Linked DNA regions of Homo sapiens. The protein of the gene in region 1 interacts with the protein of each later gene in a pairwise test. Each region holds a gene or a part of one and is shown in the gene's direction. Other genes may lie near its edges. The genes, in order: BOLA3 and GLRX3.

Region 1 (3,816 bases):
TTTGGCATCGTTCTGGAAGGTCTTGCCATTGTGAACTAGTGTTATTTTTGTAAAGCACAGCACTGGTAATGAGCGTCTCTTCGGTGGCCTCTCATGCATTGAGTTCAGGTGTCCTAGACTGCTGTTCACGCATTTCCCCCCACCCTTCTCTGCGTGCACCCTCCCAGCCGGCCTCTGCCCGCTGGTCTCTCTCTTTCTCTATCTGGGCCTTTGCCCAGATTGGACCTTCTGCCTGGGTTGCCCTTCCTCCCGTCCTCCACTCAGCTCAAATGCTGCCTCCCCTCCCTCCCCAGCAGGGAATGAATGCCGTTCCCCCACCCTCCCCGGCCCCCTTTTTTGGCTGTCGGTGTTTTCCGTCTTGTGTCCTGAAAACGGACATCTCTGCTGTCTGACCCTGCAACCTGTCAGCCCTTTGTGGACCAGTGCCCTTTGGGATCCATCTTTGTGTTTCTCATGGAACGTAGCCCTTTGCAGTGGATGTGACCCCTACAGCCCTAAGGCATGCTGGTGGTCTGCTGGGTGCTCCATCACTGAGCCCTCCCGGAAACTCTTGCAGTCCCATGTGATCTCTGGGGTCAGAATCAAGGCAGAAGACAAGACAGGGAAGACCTGGCTGGCCAGATGATCCCCAACCCGTGGCACTTTGGGTTTTATTCTCAGATCTGTACAAGCCACCTGGTGTGACTGGACCCATAGGTGCTGGTAATTTGAGTGTGTCCCTTGGCCTGAAACCACAGTTACAAGTGGTTAAGGAAGCAGTTTCTGGAATTGGACTTCCCACTTTCAAATCTGGGCTTTGCTACTTTCTAGCCATGTGACCTTGAGCAAGTTTTTCAACCTCACCCTTTGCCTCAGTTTCCTAATTGAGAGTAACAGTACTTGCTTCAAAGTGTTGCTGTGAGGATTCGTGATAAAGTACACGTTGACCACTGACAACACTGCCCGACACATAGTAAGCCTTCCATAAATGTGACCGCCATCACCATCATTGTCATCTCCAACACTGGAAGGAACCTGCACCAGTCTGGGGTGGGGAAGGGCTGTGATTCCCACAGTTTGGGGGAGTGTCACCTCACGGTCTTGGGATTAAGGTGTCTTCTGGCCCCCTATAGCAACATGTGCCTCTCCTCACACTTCCTGAGTAGACAGCCCAGTCACTTGTCTTTCATTCCCCCTCGAAAGCAGGCTTACTGCAGGACGGGGCTGTGTCCCCCACACCTAACAAAGGACCTGGCACATGGAAGGAGCCCAGTCAGTATTTCTTGAGAGTTTGCAGAGAGTGAGGAGAGTTGGCTTGTGTTTTCTTATTGGCTTACCCATGGAAATTATGTTTTAGTATCTGAAAGGCATTCTGTTTTGGAGAACTCACATCCTGACATTGGGGCACTTTTTAAAAATATATACTTCTTTTTTTTCCCTCCCACAGAGTATCACTCTGTCACCCAGGCTGGAGTGCAGTGGCGCTATCTCGGCTCACTGCAACCTCTGCCTCCTGGGTTCAAGCAATTCTTCTGCCTCAGCCTCCCAAGTAGCTGGGACTACAGGCGCCCGCCACCACACCTGGCTAATTTTAGTATTTTTAGTAGAGATGGGGTTTCACCATGTTGGCCAGGCTGGTCTCGAACTCCTGACTTCAGGTGATCCACCTGCCTCGGCCTCCCAAAGTGCTGGGATTACAGGCATGAGCCACCATGCCCAACCTTAAAAATATACATTTTTATATTTATATAGAGATGGGGTTCCACTATGCTGCCCAGGCTGGTCTTGAACTCCTTGACGATCCTCCTGCCTCGGCCTCCCTAAGTGTTGGGATTACAGGCGTGAGCCACTGTGCCCAGAGCAGCTGCATCCTGAGTTATTCTAGAGGCCTCTCCTCTGCCCCCAGCCAGAACAGCCCTTCTGGCTCAGGACTTGGGGGGGTCATGCAGCTCCACACTGGATGTCTGCAGGCAGCTGACATGAGGGGGTCCCCTGAGCCTGGCCACAGTACATTCTTAGGGGGCTGACACTTGTGTTAAAATATATGGACTTGGTCATAGGCAATTTTAGATGATTTAAGTCTGGAGATGTTGGCTTTGACAGTCGCATGAGAAGAATGAAAATGAAAATCTTCAGGAACAAGTCTGTTGGCCGGCAGGGTCTGAGCCGGGACCTGGAGCTGCCCTGCTCAGGACAGCTGTTGGGAATGGGGTTCTGACAGGCACTGCCCTAGGAGGAGGCAGAGACCTGGAATCAAGGGGAAGGCAAGGTGGTAACTGGACTCCACTCCCAGGGCCAGCTGGTCTCTTCAGGAGTGAGGTGGGGGTGGGGTAGGTGCCCCATCCAGATGCTCTCATGCCCAGGCTGTTTGGGTGGGGGCCTGGTGTCCTGACGGGGTGAAGCTTGCCTCATCTATTTTGCCTACTCACCCTATGCGTAGTAGTGTTCATCCTGGTGCTGTAGAGTCAGAATTTTCTGCCCAAAAGGCCTGAAAAGGTCGCCCAACCCATCCGATACTGGCATCCCTCCTGAGCTTCCCATCAGACTGTCCCTGCGGGATTCCCTGGAGGGGGCGCCCCCTGTCGGCACCCTCAGGAATGGACTCGTTCCTCTGGGACCCTGCTGCGCGGGGCTCAGCCTCTCCCAGGGCCCAGTGCGTCAGCCTTCTCTTGGGAAATACTTACTGGGCATTTGCTGTGGGCCACGCCCTAGGAGGCCTAGATGTTGAGGGTTTTGTACCAGGAGCACCTCCCTACCTGTCCTCCTGCCATCCTGGGGAGGTGTCAGCAAGGGTAGAGTAGGTAGGTAGCCACGGTGATCACTGAGTTGCCTTTTGAGGTGGACAGAGGTGAGATTTGAGCCTCATATTGGCAAATATTGCATGAGGCATTGACCACAGGTGCCCAGCGTCGTGCCTGCCACGTGGAAGGCAGTTGCTAAACAGCTGTTGCCGTCTCCCTGCCTCCGGCCTCTTTCCAGCTTAGGGGATTGCCCTCCCCTAAGGCGCCTCCACCAATGTCTTTCCCCTGCTCAGAGCCTTTACGTGGCTCCCCTGGTTGCCCAGAATCCAGTCCAGTCTTCCTAGCCTGGGATTGCCCATTCTTCATGTGATCTGCCTCAGTCTCCCTGACATGTGCCTACCTCAGTGAATCACGGGAGCTTCCCAGCCTCTCCTCACTTTGCTGTCCTGGGGCAGATGCCCTCTCACTCTTGCCTGCTCCACCTCTGGCTCCAGCTCCAGGGCTGCCTCCTGTGTGTGGCCCTTGTGCGTCCACCCCAGTCACCAGTGCAGTAGCTCACCTCGAACACCGGAAGCAGGGCTGTGCTGGCTTGAGTCTGGCAGTCCTCTGCTGCCCACATTCAGCCCATTTGTGTTGGACTTAATGCTACTTTCTCTTTCATTACTTTCCCACGCCTTTTCCTCTGTGTCCCCAGCACCTACTATAGTGCTGTGGGCATAGCAGGTGCTTAAGAATGGTTATCCAAGCTGCATCTTATTACCCATGGGACTTCGGCCAAGTCACTTCCCCCAGCAGGGCCCCAGTTTCCTTAACTGTAGAGTGACTCAGGTGATCTCTAAGACCCTGTGTGGCTGTAAGGGACTGTAGTGTGTTTTGGGAAGCCCTCAGGGGCTGCACAGAGAGCAGGGAGAAGGCATCAGGGAGGGGGAGTGCGCAGGGCCTGAGTGGGTGAAGCCCAGAAGGTTCCTCTGTCCAGGGTCAGTCACATGAAGGTGTGACTGGGCCCTCACCCAGCCAAGGTGGATGTAAGGAGGAGAGGCTGGTTGTGGTCCAGGCACAGACACAGTCTCTAGGGAGCATTCCACGCCTGCAGAGA
Region 2 (3,816 bases), on another chromosome or scaffold:
TTGATAAGCCCCCTGAGGCGCTGACCTCGGGTCTCCTCTGTGTCCCTCTGTAACCCTTTGCGGTGTGGTGCTGGCACTGTTCCTTTCTTGATTCCCAAATCTGTATATCAGGTGCAGACTTCTTCCCTGAGCTCTAGACATCATACTAACAACCCATTAAACTTCCTTTCCTCAGGTTGGCAGCTTCTGCACTATGATTTGAGGCATAGTGCCACCACTAGCCATCAGTCTCTAAGCCAGAACTTGGAGCCAGCTGTAGACTGCCTTATCTGTCACCAAATCCTGCCCCTTCTACCTTCGAAATCCTCATGCTGCTCTTTGCTTCTGCTTTCCTGACACTTTATTGTAGGCTTATTCTCTTCTCGCTGGTATTATTTGATCAGTTTTTACAGTTTGTTATTCCTTTCCTTACCCATAGGTTAGTTGTCCTTGGTTCTTTTTGCCATGGAACATATTTCTGTTCGTGATTTTTCAGATTTTTTTGGGAGGTGGTATTATATTTGAACAGAATTCCATAAAACTGAAGGATTTTTTAGTTGGATATGACCATAGATATCTTTGCCAAGATAATTTTGTGTGAAAACTAACTAAAATAGATACTGAGTTATTAATATATTCTGTGTGTTCATACTATAAATGTTTAGAATTTTTTTTTTTTAAATGGGTCTTGCTCTGTTGCCCACACTGGAGTGTAGTGGTATGATCATGGCTCACTACAGCCTCGACCCCCTGGGCTCAAGTAATCCTTCCACCTTAGTCTGCCAGAATGCTGAGTACAGGCATGAGCCACCTTGCCTGGCCTAGAAAAATCTTTTTTTTTTTTTTGAGGCAGAGTCTTGCTCTGCCATCCAGGCTGCAGTGCAGTGGTGTGATCTCAGCTCACTGTAACCTCTGCCTTCTGGGTTCAAACAATTCTTCTGCCTCAGCCTCCTGAGTAGCTGGGATTACAGGCATGCACCAACACACCCGGCTAATTTTTTGTGCTTTTAGTAGAGTTGGGGTTTCACCACATTAGCCAGGCTGGTCTCGAACTGCCGACCTCAAGTGATCTGCCTGCCTCGGCCTCCCAAAGTGCTGGGATTACAGGTGTGAGCCACTGCTCTGGGTCTAGAAAAATCTTTTGTAGCATAATATTAAAAAGTATAAAAAAAAGTCTTTGTGAAAAGCAGTTCTATTCTTTTCCTCGTTTTGCACTGGCATGCCTTCATTTTCAACACTTACTGCTGTTTCTATGGTCACGGTTATGTCTCTCCATCACTATACCACATTTAAAAAGTAAATAATGATATTATTAGTAATGTGTCTACAACCATTTTTCACAAACATTGTGCCATTAATACAGAAATTCAGTTTCCACTTTGCCCAGGGGTCTGAAAATATGGTTGATTTGCCTGGCTTTTTTTTTTTTTTTTTCGTTTACTTTAAGTTCTGGGATACATATGCAGAATGTGCAGGTTTCTTACATAGGTATGCATGTGCCATGGTGGTTTGCTGCACCTATCAACCCATCATCTAGGTTTTAAGCCCTGCATGCATTAGGTATTTGTCCTAATGCTTTCTCTCCCCTTGCCCCCCACCCCCTGACAGGCCCTGGTATGTGATGTTCCCCTCCCTGTGTCCGTGTGGTTTCATTGTTCACCTCCCACTTATGAATGAGAACATGCAATGTTTGTTTTTCTGTTCCTGTGTTAGTTTACTGAGAATGGTGGCTTCCAGCTTCATCCATGTCCCTGCAAAGGACATGAACTCATTCCTTTTTATGACTGCATAGTATTCCATGGTATATATGTGCCACATTTCCTTTATCCAGTCTGTCATTGACAGGCATTTGGGTTGGTTCCAAGTCTTTGATATTGTAAATAGTGCTGCAATAACATAATGTGTGCATGTGTCTTTATAGTAGAATGATTTATAATCTTTTGGGTATATACCCAGTAATGGGATTGCTGGGTCAAATGGTATTTCTGGTTCTAGATCCTTGAGGAATTGCCACACTGTCTTCCACAATGGTTGAACTAATTTACACTCCCACCAACAGTGATTTACATGACTTTTAATTGAGGTGGATGAATATTCAGATCTACTTCAAATGGGCTTCACTTGAAATATCATTGAATTGAAAATTTATCTGAAAGAGTCTCAAGACCTTGCAGAGTGCTTTTATGTTCCAGTGTTGTATACAACAAAATTCTAGCAATATGAAAAACTTCAGACGGTTCTTTTAAAGCTTTCTTTTTTTTCTTTTTGGTAATTTATATCAGTATTTGTGTATTTCCAAAATTGGTATAATTTTAAATAAATGCATTTAATTGATTTACAGGTCCCTCCTTGTGGTCCATTTCTGGGCACCATGGGCTCCACAGTGTGCACAGATGAACGAAGTTATGGCAGAGTTAGCTAAAGAACTCCCTCAAGTTTCATTTGTGAAGGTATTTATATTTCAATGTCATGTCTTTTGTGAATTTAATTCTGATTTATGGGTTAGATTAGGGCTGGGTGCGGTAGCTCACACCTGTAATCCCAGCACTTTGGGAGGCTGAGGCGGGCAGATCACCTGAGTTCAGTAGTTTGAGACCAGCCCAGCCAACATAGTGAAACCCTGTCTCTACTAAAATACAAAAATTAGCTGGGCGTGGTGGCGGGTGCCTATAATCCCAGCTATGTGGGAGGCTGAGGCAGGAGAATCTTTTGAACCCGGGAGGCAGAGATTGCAGTGAGCCGAGATTGTGCCACTGCACTCCAGCCTGGGTGACAGAGCGAGACGCTGTCTCTAAATAAATAAATAAATAAAATAAAAAATTAGATTTTATTAACTAATATAAAGATGGAGTGGTATGGAATTCCAAATATGTATAATTGGTGTGGGATCTGTTATTTTTGCACATCATTCTTAAAAATCTTAAAATAATTTTGCATTTTTTTTTTTTTTGAGACAGAGTCTTGTTCTGTCGCCCAGGCTGGAGTGCAGCTCCAGCTCACTGCAACCTCTGCCTCCCCGGTTTAAGCGATTTTCCTGCCTAAGCCTCCCGAGTAGCTGGGACTACAGGCACATGCCACCACACCCAGCTAATTTTTTGTATTTTTAGTAGAGATGGGGTTTCACCATCTTAGCCAGGATAGTCTTGGTCTCTTGACCTCGTGATCTGCTCACCTTGGCCTCCCAAAGTACTGTGATTAGGCGTGAGCCACCACGCCTGGCCAAATGTACACTTTTCCTTGATCATCCTCGGGTGTGAGGCATGACTACCAAATGTCAAGGTGGCTGTGGGCTGGAGTTTTGGAGAGCACAGGCAGACAAATTAGTTCCCTGTGGGTAACTGTGGTTTTAAGGCATTTAAAATAGTAACACAAATTATGTCATTGAAAAGCTAGGTGTGCTGTAGAAAATAATTCAGGAAGGGGTATGTAAATGCTGCTAGGGACCAGGGAACAGGAAGTTGCTATCTTGGTTTAGATGAAGGCAGACCTCCGGGAGAAGGTGAAAGTCTTTCTAACCTGTTCAGAATGTAGAGGAAGATGGAAGCCAGTCAGTCTCTTCCTTGCCTCTTTTGTTTTTCACTCTGGTTATGTGTACTCCTACATTCCTGCTGTCTCTCTTGAGTGGATGAGTGCTAGGAAAGCTGTAGTTTTGACTGTGGATTAACTCAATTGGTTTAGCACGTTAAAGATATTATTCAGGACTTAGTACTGGTTTAGGCAGCAGGGCCAAAATATGTGTTGAGAGTCTTAGAAATGAATTATCAGGAGGGGAGGTGCACCTTGTATTCCCAAGCCTGAATCCTTAAGATTTAAAAAACAAATGAAAAACCAAAGTCT

The links.
Region 2: the proteins of BOLA3 (region 1) and GLRX3 interact in binary tests that used the Homo sapiens proteins (3 or more experiments, as listed by UniProt).

What each region holds. Positions count from the first base shown.
Region 1 is NC_000002.12:74,137,887-74,141,702, reverse strand, and holds part of BOLA3 (bolA-like protein 3), read left to right. Parts: intron 1-3,816. UniProt on the Homo sapiens protein: Acts as a mitochondrial iron-sulfur (Fe-S) cluster assembly factor that facilitates (Fe-S) cluster insertion into a subset of mitochondrial proteins. Probably acts together with NFU1.
Region 2 is NC_000010.11:130,142,891-130,146,706, forward strand, and holds part of GLRX3 (glutaredoxin-3), read left to right. Parts: intron 1-2,320; coding exon 2,321-2,429; intron 2,430-3,816. UniProt on the Homo sapiens protein: Together with BOLA2, acts as a cytosolic iron-sulfur (Fe-S) cluster assembly factor that facilitates [2Fe-2S] cluster insertion into a subset of cytosolic proteins.